Linked DNA regions of Homo sapiens: all the other regions are linked to region 2. Evidence: fine-mapped expression QTL. A gene starts in region 2. Each other region holds a variant in brackets. All regions are shown on one strand. Distances are between the middles of the regions.

Evidence for each region. PIP is the estimated chance that this variant, and not a neighbour inherited with it, causes the effect. A credible set is the group of variants that fine-mapping cannot tell apart.
Region 1: its variant is the best candidate, but not a certain one, in a credible set for the expression of ZNF660 in whole blood (TOPMed, PIP 0.80).
Region 3: its variant is the best candidate, but not a certain one, in a credible set for the expression of ZNF660 in cerebellar hemisphere (GTEx, PIP 0.76).

Annotation. Positions count from the first base shown.
Region 1 is chr3:44,629,887-44,634,030 of GRCh38, forward strand. It overlaps ZNF660-ZNF197 (ZNF660-ZNF197 readthrough), which reads left to right. Exons shown (of 8, transcript NR_147692.2): 4 at 928-1,060; 5 at 1,176-1,335; 6 at 2,219-2,310; 7 at 2,587-2,713. ZNF197 (zinc finger protein 197) reads left to right here. Exons shown (of 6, transcript NM_006991.5): 3 at 1,176-1,335; 4 at 2,219-2,310; 5 at 2,587-2,713. All of the region lies in intron 2 of ZKSCAN7-AS1 (ZKSCAN7 ZNF cluster antisense RNA 1), which reads right to left. Among named protein-coding and RNA genes, the nearest start is that of ZNF197, 6.9 kb to the left of the region's middle. The variant G/C (reference allele first, on the strand shown) is at 2,052.
Region 2 is chr3:44,582,913-44,587,056 of GRCh38, forward strand. ZNF660 (zinc finger protein 660) reads left to right here and starts at 2,052. Exons shown (of 3, transcript NM_173658.4): 1 at 2,052-2,095; 2 at 3,193-3,301. It overlaps ZNF660-ZNF197 (ZNF660-ZNF197 readthrough), which reads left to right and starts at 2,052. Exons shown (of 8, transcript NR_147692.2): 1 at 2,052-2,095; 2 at 3,193-3,301. The region is part of intron 2 of ZKSCAN7-AS1 (ZKSCAN7 ZNF cluster antisense RNA 1); the gene reads right to left. It also overlaps a transcript of ZKSCAN7 not described here.
Region 3 is chr3:44,558,893-44,563,010 of GRCh38, forward strand. The region is part of intron 2 of ZKSCAN7 (zinc finger with KRAB and SCAN domains 7); the gene reads left to right. The region is part of intron 2 of ZKSCAN7-AS1 (ZKSCAN7 ZNF cluster antisense RNA 1); the gene reads right to left. Among named protein-coding and RNA genes, the nearest start is that of ZKSCAN7, 5.8 kb to the left of the region's middle. The variant G/A (reference allele first, on the strand shown) is at 2,236.

The DNA of each region.
Region 1 (4,144 bases), 47 kb after region 2:
TCTATAATTCTGTTTGGAATGGTGATGTAAGCCTAGAGTATAAAAGGCAATAGCAGGCCAGGCACAGTGGCTCATGCCACAGCATTTTGGGAGGCTGAGGTGGGAGGATCATTTGAGGCCAGGAGTTCAAGACCAGCCTGGACAACATGGGAAGACCCCATCTCTACAAAAAATTTAAAAATTAGCCAGATGTAGTGGCGAGTGCCTATAGTCCCAGCTACTTAGAAGGCTGAGGTGGGAGGATCACTTGAACCCAGGAGGTTGAGGCAGCAGTGAGCTATGATTACACCATTGCACTCCAGCCTGGGTGATGGAGTGAGATCCTGTCTTTAAATAAATAAATAAATAAAATGGCAGTAGCATAACAAGAATGAAGCTTTCCACATCTTGGTAAGATCTCCTCTTGTGTGCCCTACTAGGGATCTGCAAGCCAAGGGATTGGGTTAAGATATTTGCTTCTGATAAGATTTATATCCTTGACCATTAGATTGGGATCTTAATGTAGCCTCTCATGTGTGTGAGATTTCTTTTTGTACATCTGTAGCTCACTAGAAACATTTCTGTATAAGACGTCTGAATCATAACTCAAACTTGGGTGTGGCATTAAGGATGGGCTTGTTTCTTTTAATAATAACGTGAACAATTTTAGAGCTATATATTTCGTTACAAATTACTAATACATCCTCATTTGAGAGATAAGGAAACTGAGGCAGATGTCTAGCTGGCCGCAAAACCAAGTGTCTTGGTGCCAATTTTAGTGTTAGTTGTATTTGAGCACAAAGGGCTAGGTAAAGGGGTCAATAAGTAGATGGTAAATAAGTAGAAGAGATGTGACTGAAGTCCGATCTAAAACTTAAGTCTGAAGCTAAAATCCATGCTCTTAATTACTGCTTATTACTTCCCATTCCCTCCTTAACCCACACCCAGGTCTGGCTTCTGTTCCCACCGTTGTGTACAGTCTCCTCTGGGAGAGGTCACCAGTGCCATGAGTGGGGCTCGAGGGCAGCTCCATTGTTCTCAATGCAAAGCTTTACTGCTGTTTTGATGCTCCATACTTGAGGTGGGTCTCTCTGATCTCACAGTTGTAGATTGTGGGCAGAAAGAGGTCCACAGTGCTTAGGTGAGTCCATTTTCTTAAGAAACAAGAAGAGCTAGCTTATTTTACTTGTTTCCAGGTTCCAGTCCTTGTCAAGGATCAGGACACTCTCCAGAAGGTGGTGAGTGCCCCAGGAACAACACTTCCTCCTGTACTTCCTGGCAGCCACATAGCAGCTGAAATTTGCCCGCATCCTCCTACTGACCTAGTGGCATTCAACCTCCAGGATCCTCAGCATGGTATTTACTCAGTGCTCTGGGTTTTGGGCTGTTCAAGGACCCTTCCTGTGGCTCATCCCCCTACTTCCAGGGAGTTGCTTCCTCTGCTACCCTGTCTAGGAGTCTCTTACAGTGCCAATTTCTTTCTGCTGTTCTGTTGTTCTCTCCTTCTTTCTTGGGCCCCTCTGAGCTTGTATACATCCCCCCTTTTTTTTTTTGAGACGGAGTCTCGCTCTGTCGCCCAGGCTGGAGTGCAGTGGCGCGATCTCAGCTCACTGCAACCTCCGCCTCCTGGGTTTACGCCATTCTCCTACGTCAGCCTCCTGAGTAGCTGGGACTACAGGTGCCCGCCACTGTGCCCGGCTAGTTTTTTAATTTTTTTTTTAGTAGAAACGGGGTTTCACTGTGTTAGCCAAGATGGTCTTGATCTGACCTTGTGATCTGCCCGCCTTGGCCTCCCAAAGTGCTGGGATTACAGGTGTGAGCCACTGCACCCGGCCATTTTTGTTTTTTTTTTTTGAGATGGAGTCTCGCTCTGTTGCCAGGCTGGAGTGCAATGGCACAATCTCGGCTCACTGCAACCTCCGCCTCCCAGGTTCAAGCCATTCTCCTGCCTCAGCCTCCCGAGTACCTGGGACTACAGGCACGTGCCACCACGCCCAGCTAATTTTTTTGTATTTTTAGTAGAGACAGGGTTTCACCATGTTGGCCAGGATGGTCGTAATCTCTTGACCTTG[G/C]GAGCCACCCACCTCGGCTTCCCAAAGCTCTGGGATTACAGGTGTGAGCCACCACGCCCTGCCTTGTATCATTCTTACTGCTACTCTTTGTGTTATTCCAGCTCTGCAAGTGGGGTCACTCAGAAAAGGTTTGTAGGTCCCATATGCAGCTTTTTCTCCCTCCTCAGATTCTCCTGCCCCTGAAGCTTCTGCCCTTTCCCAGGAAGAGAACCCAAGAAATCAATTAATGGCACTTATGCTCCTAACAGCCCAGCCCCAGGTAAGGTTTGCATCCTCTTTCCTTCCCATCTGCACAGCGTAACTGTGGCTGAAGTGCCCTCTCTCATCCTTGTGCTTCAATGTCCAGTCAGTTCCCATTTCTAAATCAGGGTCTATGCTATTGGAAGACAGACTTTACATGTGATCTCCTTATGTCTCCCTGATGTCTGTTATGCACTCATGGCCTCACAGTGTATCCCTTCCCCAGAAGTGAAGGGAACCTTTCGACAGGCAAGTTCCTGGGCATTGGTAATCTCACACACACTTGTTATTTCAGGAGTTGGTGATGTTCGAGGAGGTGTCAGTATGCTTCACTTCAGAGGAATGGGCATGTCTGGGCCCAATCCAGAGGGCCTTGTACTGGGATGTGATGCTGGAGAATTATGGAAATGTGACCTCCCTAGGTAAGGATTCTTCTTTCTATGATGCTTACCTTTATTTCACCAGCCTTTATTTGTTTTCTGATTATAAAAGTAGCATATATGTATTTTGGAAAACACCGAATATTACAAAGAAGAAAAAAACCTTCCTTAACATCGCTATTTCCAGATAACTATTATCATTTTGATATATTACCTTTCTGTTTTTTCTATATGTTTGAGGGATTTTTTACATTGTTCCAAAGTGTGTGTGTGTGTGTGTCTGTGCACAGTTTTATAGCTTGCTTTCCTTGTGTGTGTTCTCACATGTTACAAACTCTTTGCAGTTATTATCTATATTGGCTATATGATTTGTACCATAATTCAGTCAGCCATTCCTTATTTTAGATAACTGCTATAATAATCATCTGTCTCTGTGCCTAAGGCCTTCTAAAATGTTTTATTATTTTTAGAGGTACAATTACTGGGCATAAGTGTTTGAATGGCTTTGAGGCTCTTGCTTCATATTGCCAAATTACTTTCTGTAGCGATCCCTGTCCTCTCTGTTCTTAGAAGTGGTGTATAAGAACACTCCTTTTGCTCTGCCTTCATTTGTACTGAGTAATCCCACAATTCTAAATTGTTGCTAATATATTTTTAAAGTTATATATATTCTAAAATAGATTTCTTTGATAAATAATAAAAGAATATTTCAAAACAATTTTTAGCCATTTTTGCTACCAGCAGACATTAAATACCTATCATGGTACAGCTGTGAAAATGATGTGATTCGGCCCTTAAATAGCTTACAATGGTTTAGGAGATGATTACAGAGATATTAAATATACAAGGCAGAGTAAAATAATTGGTACAAGAGTGGCATAAACCTGGTGTGACAGAAATGCAGAAAACGGGGCAATCAGTTTCATTCCTAGGGATTAGCAAAGGCCATAAAGGAGGTAGCATTTATACTGGAACTTGAAGAAAAGAGTAGAATTCTCTTTGGAGAAATCAACGTTCAGAACTGGGTAATCAGCCACAGGAACTAACTTTGACTGAAATACAGATTTACAGTATCAGTTTAAATGGCTGCAGAGTATTGCATGGTCTGTGTATCATGCTTTACATTGACAGCTTTATGATTCTGAATGTTTCTATTCAAGAACATTACATAACATTCCATTTTTTCTGTACTGCTTTTGTATGCATCGGGCATGTTTTAAAATTGCCTAGATCTTCCATATTTCTGGTAATATTTATTCTTTGGAATTGGAGTCTTTTCTGTATTTTCTAATTGACTGTCATTTGCATATATGAAAGTACTTTTTGTTTGTGTTAATTTTGTACCTAGCAACTTTATTTTATTATCTTTAATAATTTAAACTGTACATTTTCACACTTTTGAGACTGTATCCTTTAGTATCTCAGTAGTGGCAGTGGTGGGTGAAACAGTCTGTAGATTTTATACTTTGATAC
Region 2 (4,144 bases):
TGTGTGTGTGTGTGTGTGTGTGTGTGTGTGTGTGACTGAGTTTCACTCTTGTCTTCCAGGCTGGAGTACAATGGCGTGATCTTGGCTCACTTCAATCTCCAGCTCCCGAGTTCAAGCGATTCTCCTGCCTCAGACTCCTGAGTAGCTGGGATTACAGGCGCCTGCCACCATGCCCAGCTAATTTTTGTAATATTTAGTAGAGACGGGGTTTCACCATGTTGGCCAGGCTGGTTTCGAACTCCTGACCTCAGGTGATCCACCCGCCTCAGCCTCCCAAAGTGGTGGGATTACAGGCGTGAGCCACCACACCCAGCCTATTCTTTTTAAGTTTCTTGATGTAGTGGCAGTAGTCTTGTGCTCTTCAGGAGAGTGTCCCGAGTTCTACGTCCCACATCAACTGAGGGTGTGAACTTGTGGAGGACTTTTGTCTGAATCTCTTTTTCAATCTCTATACAATGTGGCGGAGTTGTGCCACCTACATGAGCCAATGGAGAAGAAAGCTCCTGGTATACTTTAAGTACTCAACAATATTAAATACTGAATATTTGTCAATTGACGAAGTACTTCAAAAGCTTGATTCTCAGACTCCTTCTTAGATAAATCATTCCCTAGATTGTCTCATCCTGTCCTGACAACTTCCAAATTTATGTCTTTAGCTGTGATCTCTTCACGGAAGTCCAGACTCCTATTCCAACTGCCTGTTTGGCATTTCATCTTGGATGTTTAATTGGCATCTTTAACACATCCAAAACAAAACTATTAATCCCTCTCCCTAAACCTGTTCCTTTCAAGCTACTCGATTTCTAAAAGACCATCCCATGCTAGTTGCTCAGATCAATAACCATGGAGTCATCAGTAACCAACATTCAATTCATTAGCAAATCATGCAGGCCATGCCTTCAAAATATATGCAGAACCATTTCTCACTACCTGCATCACTTCTAAGCCTGTCCAAGCCACTATCAGTCCTCATCTGGAATATTGTAATGGCCTCTTAATCTCCCTGATTCTACTCTTACCCACCTTCAGACCGTTCTCAACAAGACAGCCAAAGCAAACTAAAAATATAAGTCAAAGAGCAAAATTCATGCAAGGTTTATGTTAGAATGGCTAAGGACAGACAGCAAAGAATTCACAGAATTTATAGTAACAGGCTTCTTGGCTTCTTTCATGTCTCATAGCTAACAAGTCTTTGAATATGTGGTAAGGGAAAAAAAGTTAGATCATGTCGTTCCTCTGTCCCCAAGCCCTCCAGCTGTTATGCAGAGCAAATCCAAAGCCCTTATCATAGTCTACAAGATCCTAAATGTGCACCTCTCCACCCCACTCCTGATTAAAGAATTTTGCTCCTAATGGCCCACTATGGGAATACTCTTTCCCCAGATAGCCACATGCTTCAATTGCCCACTTCCTGTCTCTGCCCTCCCTGTCATCTGTAAAATAGTCCCACCACTATCTCCCTCTCTCCCCTTACTCCCTCTCTCCCCTTACTGCTACGTTCTACATATTTATTTATCATTGTCTCCTTGACTTGAATGTAAACTCAATGGGGCAGAGAGTTCATTTTCTTCACTACTGTATCCGCAGCGCCTGGAACAGTGAGTGACATAGTAGGCACCCAAAACGTCTTTTCATATGCTGCCAATAAACCATAGCTGATCCTGGCTTTGAGGCTGAATGACCCAGATCTGTGGAAGGAAAGATGACCTCTCTGCTCAGCAACCGGAGCTGGGGGTGTAACTTTAGGGAGTCTCAGCCTGAGGCTGGCAGCCTGGCCACCCAGATGCTCGGTCTCTTTCCGCCCTAACCAAGCCCCCTGCCCAGCTTCCACCACTTCCAGGGCCCTCCTCACATTGGCTGAAGTCGCCAAGCCCTTCCATCCAATGATAGGGCAAAGCCCGGAAGGGAGGCAGGGCCAGAGCGTCGGCCGACCGCGCGGGGCTTCTGAGGGGCGGGGGGACTCCAGCCCGCGGGCACAGAGATGTGGAAACCTCACGAAGCCTAGAAGGGCCGGAGGGACAGGCTGGGAGTTAGCTGGGAGTTGCTGACGCAGTTCCTTCTGCGCTTTGTTCAAGATGTGGGTCTGGCGCTTTCGGTGAGGGGTGCTCTACAGTCTGGCGTGGGGGGTCGGGCCGGGTTCTGGGAGCGTGTGGGAGACGCAAGCCAGGAGGCCAGGGCTCCTCTGCGGCTGCCCGCTGCTGAGATGGGCGCGGCAGCCAAGGGGTCGTTGTGGGCCTCCCCTTTCTCTCGTTCAGTGCTGCCCCTTTGTCTTGGGTCCAGTCTCTGACTCCTCGTAGCTGCTCGCTTGGACCAGGCTGGCCGTGGTGACAGCACTGTGTCGTCCCCGCTCCTAGGCAGTGGGCCTTCCGGGTAGTAGCGGTCGAGTCCCGCCTAGGCTCTCAGGACTCCACAGCCCCTGAGTATTTGACTCAAATCACCAGTCCAATATCCCTCCCGTTACCAGTGAGGAACCTGGGGCCCAGAGAAGAGGACGGAGTCTTGCCCAAGGTTACTCATTCATTCATTGATTCATTCAACAAATATTTATTGAGCACTAACCCAGTAGTGTGCTAGGTCCTGGGGTTATGGTTGTGTACAGGACAGAACTAAATTCTAGTAGGGGAGAAATGAAACAAACTTCAAGGGTTAGAAGCAGAGCCTGGGGATCTGGAGGGGGAAACACAAAACATATTTGAGGCTTAGTAATCCTAAGAAATGGGTAAACAGAAAAAAGGAACATTCTTTTTCTAGTGCTCTTTTAAAGACTTGTTTCTTTCTGTCTTCCTAAAGACACTTGACTCAGCAAAGTTCTCCCTCTCATCCCCCTTGTGCAGACTTTCTGTGGAAAGCTGGATTGCAAGGAAGTTCTCCACTGCATTGTATTTTGCAGTTAGATGAGAATATGGAAGCTTTTAGATATCAATGGAGCAGGTGAAAAGGGGAGGCTGTGGTGTGATGGAATTAGGATTTCCTGAAGACACAGAAGGCTTTTTAATCACTCACTAGCTATAGGACCTTGGGCAAGTCGTTCAATCCCTGGGAGCTTCATTCCCTCATCTTTACACTGGAAATGATCCTTCTTACTGCCCACAGTTCTATAGGAAGGGAAGTTACCCAAAGATGGGACACTGCCCTGAGTGTCCACTTGGAATTCAGGGCTCAGAGAACTCAGTCATTTATATCTGTTTACAGTGACTCAAGACCCTCTTAGGAACTTCTTCACTGAACTCAAGGAGGAGATCAGGCAAGATCTGTGCTGTGCAGATCCTTTGGATTGAGGCTGCTGTGCACAGGAATATGGGTGAGTCATTCCATTCTCTCCTGGGCAGGTGAGGCCTAGATTGTGAAGTTAGTCTGGGCACAGGAATCCTGCTTGTGGGCACCAGGGTTGAAAGGGAGCTTCTCTCAGTGGTATTTATCAAACAGGAGAAAAGCACTGAAGTGGGCAGGGGGCCTCTGGACCTTGAGGAGTAGAGTTTTGTTTCAGATGGGAATAAGGGTGATGTAGTAGAACTCAAAATTGGGTGTCATGGGACTTGGATTTGAGTCCCAGCTTTCCTCTAAGTTCCAAGTTTTCCTTCTGTACATTTGGATATAAGACTGGATAGACTGGGAGGTTCCTTCCAGCTCTGACATACTGAGAGTCTCTGAATAGTGGGACCAGGTCAATCTCTTAGGGAATTTAGTCCCTGGGATGACTCTGTTGAGACAGAATTGCCAAGAATGCAAATACACCATTATGGTGTTTCCCAGATAATATGAAGCACAAAAAGGACAAACATGTAGAGGAGGGATGGTAGTAGTGATGTGTGGATTTGGCTCTCAGCATCCCTATGTGCACTCCAGGTGTTAGAATCTTAAACTTGTTTAATTTACCATTTCAAATCAAACAATGCTGACTGAGCCCTCTCTGTGTCAGACACCATGTGGTATCTACAGGCAAATCTCATGGGAACTGCTCTCTGAGGGCATAGAGCTTAATGTATATATTTGAGGATGGACACAGACATACACACAAGCAATTCCAGTATAAGGCAAACTCTATTTTATAGATTTGTTATGGCATTTTTTGGAATACAGAAATTTTTATGTGTCAGATATATCAGCTTTTTCACATGGTGTTAGCCTTTCCCTTGAGGCTTAG
Region 3 (4,118 bases), 24 kb before region 2:
CTTAGCCTCCTGAGTAGCTGGTACCACAGTCATGTGCCACCACACCAGGCTAATTTTTTTTATTGTAGACATGTGGTCTTGTTATGTTGCCCAGGCTTGTTCTTGAATTCCTGGCTTCAGATGATATTCTTGCCTTGGCCTCCCAAAGCACTGCGATTACAGGCATGAGCTACCACGCCTGGCCTGGAATTTCTTCTTCATGGAACTTTTAGCTTTGCTTTTAAGGGCTTACAACTGATTGAATCAGGCTCATGCATTCATCCGTTATCTAGTATAATCTCCCTTACTTAAACTTATTATGTACTTTAATCACATTTTTAAAATAGTTTACAGCAACACCTGGATTGATGTTTGATTAGTACCAAGTTGACACATCAAAAGATCATCACACCATGGATAAGTTAGTTCTTCCTAATGAGTTTCAAATTGTTCCCCTATAATAGAAGCAGGGTGAACTAGAGGTCCCCTCTACCCCTTTGTACTTTATCAGGGGAAAACAGTATAGAGAATTTCCCAAGTACCCAATATATCATTTTATTCAATGCTTTTTTTCCTAGAGAGTCTCACCCTATCACCCAGGCTGGAGTGTGGTGGCACAATCTTGGTTCACTGCAACCTCTGCCTCCTGGGCTCAAGTGATCCTCCCACCTCAGCTTCCCTAGTAGCTGGGACCATAGGTGTGAGCCACCACACCTGGCTAATTTTTGTGTTTTTAGTAGAGACGGGGTTTCACCATGTTGTCCAGGGTGGTCTTGAACTCCTGAGCTCAAGAAAGCCACCTGCCTCATCCTCCCAAAGTGCTGGAATTACAGGTGTGAGCCATCACGCTCAGCCTATTCAATGCTTTTTAAAAAATGATTACATATCACTAGGGAATCAGTTCTAGTTGATCAGGATCCTGGGGCTAGACATTTTTCCAGGATTATTAGCAGTACACATTTGTCATTATCAACCATCATTTTCTTTGTGTAAACAAGTAAGCACATATGAGTAAATCAACCATCACAAGGGTCTAGAGAGCAGCTGGGCCAGCCATGGCAATGACAGGTGGCTGAAGACATATTTAGAGAACCATTTAGTGAGGGTGGCAGAAGGAAAATGTCCCTATTTCCTGCTTGGTTTTGCTTAAGAAGTTAATGCTTCCTCCATTAAAACTTTTAGTGCTTTATCCAGCTAGCAGCCTCAGAAAAGGGTGACTGTTGAGTCACAACCCAAGAAAATGACTAACAGTAGACAGTGAGGCAGCTGAATGCTCATGGCTCCAGCTTGGGTGTAGGGTCTTTGGAGTCCATTTCTTAATCTCCCACTACTGTCAGTGTTATGTTTTCTGACACGAAGACATAAGGGCAGGACTATCTTTCATCAGCAGGCGTTCAGAAAATGTTTACAGAATGGCTAAATGAATAAACAAGCTTTTCCATGGAAGTTTGCCAAGAGGAGATTAAGGAGGGTCCAGGTAAATTGGAGTCATTTTGCTTATCAGGAGCAAGCCACTTTATTGCTGCAGAAGGAGCATGTACATGTGTGCACATTGTGGCTGGGAAAGGTTTGTATAGTGATCCCTGCTGGGCTGCAGAGTCATGCAACTTGCAGAATTCTTTTGTTTCCTGTATCTTTTTTTTTTTTTTTTTTTTTTTTGAGACAAAGTCTCACTCTGTTGCCCAGGCTGGAGTGCAGTGACACAATCTCAGCTCACTGCAAGCTCCGCCTCCTTCACGCCATTCTCCTGCCTCAGCCTCCTGAGTAGCTGGGACTACAGGTGCCTGCCACCACGCCCAGCTAATTTTTTGTATTTTTAGTAGAGACAGGGTTTCACCATGTTAGCCAGAATGGTTTCGATCTCCTGACCTCATGATCCTCCCGCCTCGTTCTCCCAAAGTGCTGGGATTACAGGCATGAGCCACCACGCCTGGCCTGTTTCCTGTATCTTTTTTCATCTCCTGCCAGGGTTACAAAACAGGCAGTGCAGTAATCATTATCTCCATTTGACAAGTGAAGTGAGCACATGTAGTAAGCATTCCCTTGCCCGAAAGATTTAGCTGAGGTGTGGTTGTTTCTGATTACCATCAAGTGGGAGGACCAGGATTTTCCATCTCCCTAGTTTCTAAGCCAACAGCTTTTCTCTAGGGTCTTGCTGTGGAATGCCATATTAGAATGAGGTTTTCATGTCTTCAAGGAAGGGAAACCTGTGATTCTGTATTAGTCTGTTTTCACACTGCTATAAAGAACTACCTG[G/A]GTAATTAAAAAGAAAAGAGGTTTAATTGGCCCACAGTTTCACAGGCTTAACAGGAAGCATGACTGGGAGGTCTCAGGAAACCTACAATCATGGCAGAAGGCAAAGAGGAAGGAAGGACCTTCTTCACATTGTGGCAGAAGAGAATGCAGGGGGAAGTGACACATACTTTTAAATGATCAGATCTCATGAGAACCCACAAGAACACCAAGGGGAGATCTACCCCATGATCCAGTCATCTCCCACCAGGCCCCTCCTCCAATTCGTTGTGAGATTTGGGTGGGAACACAAATCTAAACCACTATTATTCTGCCCTGGCCCCTCCCAAATCTCATGTTCTTTTCACATTGCAAAATACAATTATCCCTTCTCAACAGTCCCCCAGACTTAACTCATTTCAGCATTAACTCAAAAGTTCACAGTCCAAAGTCTCATCTGAGACAGGGTAAGTCCCTTCCACCTATGAGCCTGTAAAATAAAAAACTAGTTAGTTACTTCCAAGATACAATGGGGATATAGGCATTGGGTAAATGCTCCCATTCCAAATGGGAGAAATTGGCCAAAACAAAGGGGTTACATGTCCCATGCAAGTCCAAAACCAAGCAGGGCAGTCATTAAGTCATAAAGCTCCAAAATAATCTCCTTTGACTCCATGTCTCACATCCAGGGCATGCTGATGCAAGAGATCAGTTCCCAAGGCCTTGGGCATCCTGGCCCCTGTGGCTCTGCAGGTTATAGCCCCCATGGCTGCAGTCACCAACTGACATTGAGTGCCTGTGCCTTTTCCAGGCACATGGTGCAAGCTGCTTGTGGATTTACCATTCTGGGGTCTGGAGGATGGTGGCCCTCTTCTCACAGCTCCACTAGGGAATGCCTCAGCAAGACTGTGTGGGGGCTCCAACCTTGCATTTCCCCTTCACACTGCCTTAGTAGAGGTTTTTCCATGACAGTTTTGCCCCTGCAGCAGACTTCTGCCTGGACATCCAGGTGTTTCCATACCTCCTCTGAAATCTAGGAGGAGATTCCCAAACCTCAACTCTTGCCTTCTGCACACCTGCAGGCCCAACAACATGTGAAAGCTGCCAGCTTGGGGCTTGCACCCTCTGAGGACACAGCCTGAGCTATACCTTGGCCTCTTTTAGCCACAGCTGGAGCTGGAGTGGCTGGGACACAGGGGACCATGTCCTGAGGCTGCACAGAGCAGCTAGGCCCTGGGCCTAGCCCATGAAACCATTGTTTTCTCCTAGGCCTCCAGGCCTGTGATGAGAGGGGGCTGCTGTGAATGTCTCTAAAATGCCCTGGAGACGTTTTCCCCATTGTGTTGGCTATTAAAATTTGGCTCCTCTTTACTTATTCAAATTTCTGCAGCAGGCTTGAATTTCTCCCCAGAAAACGGGTTTTTCTTTTCTACCACATGGCCGGGCTACAAATTTTCCAAATTTTTATGCTCTGCTTCCCTTTTAAATATAAGTTCCAGTTTCAGATCTCTTTGTTCACAAATATGAGTGGACACTTTTAGAAACAGCCAGGTCACTTCTTGAATGCTTTGCTGCTTAGAAATTTCTTCTGCTAGAGGGCTGGGCGTGGTGGCTCACGCCTGTAATCCCAGCACTTTGGGAGGCTGAGGCAGGTGGATCACGAGGTCAGGAGATCGAGACCACGGTGAAACCCCATCTCTACTAAAAATACAAAAAATTAGCTGGGCATGGCGGCGGGTGCCTGTAGTCCCAGCTACTCGGGAGGCTGAGGCAGGAGAATGGCATGAACCTGGGAGGCGGAGCTTGCAGTGAGCCAAGATCGCGCCACTGCACTCCAGCCTGGGTGACAGAATGAGACTCCATCTCAAAAAACAAAAAAAAAAAAAGGAAATTTCTTCTACTAGATA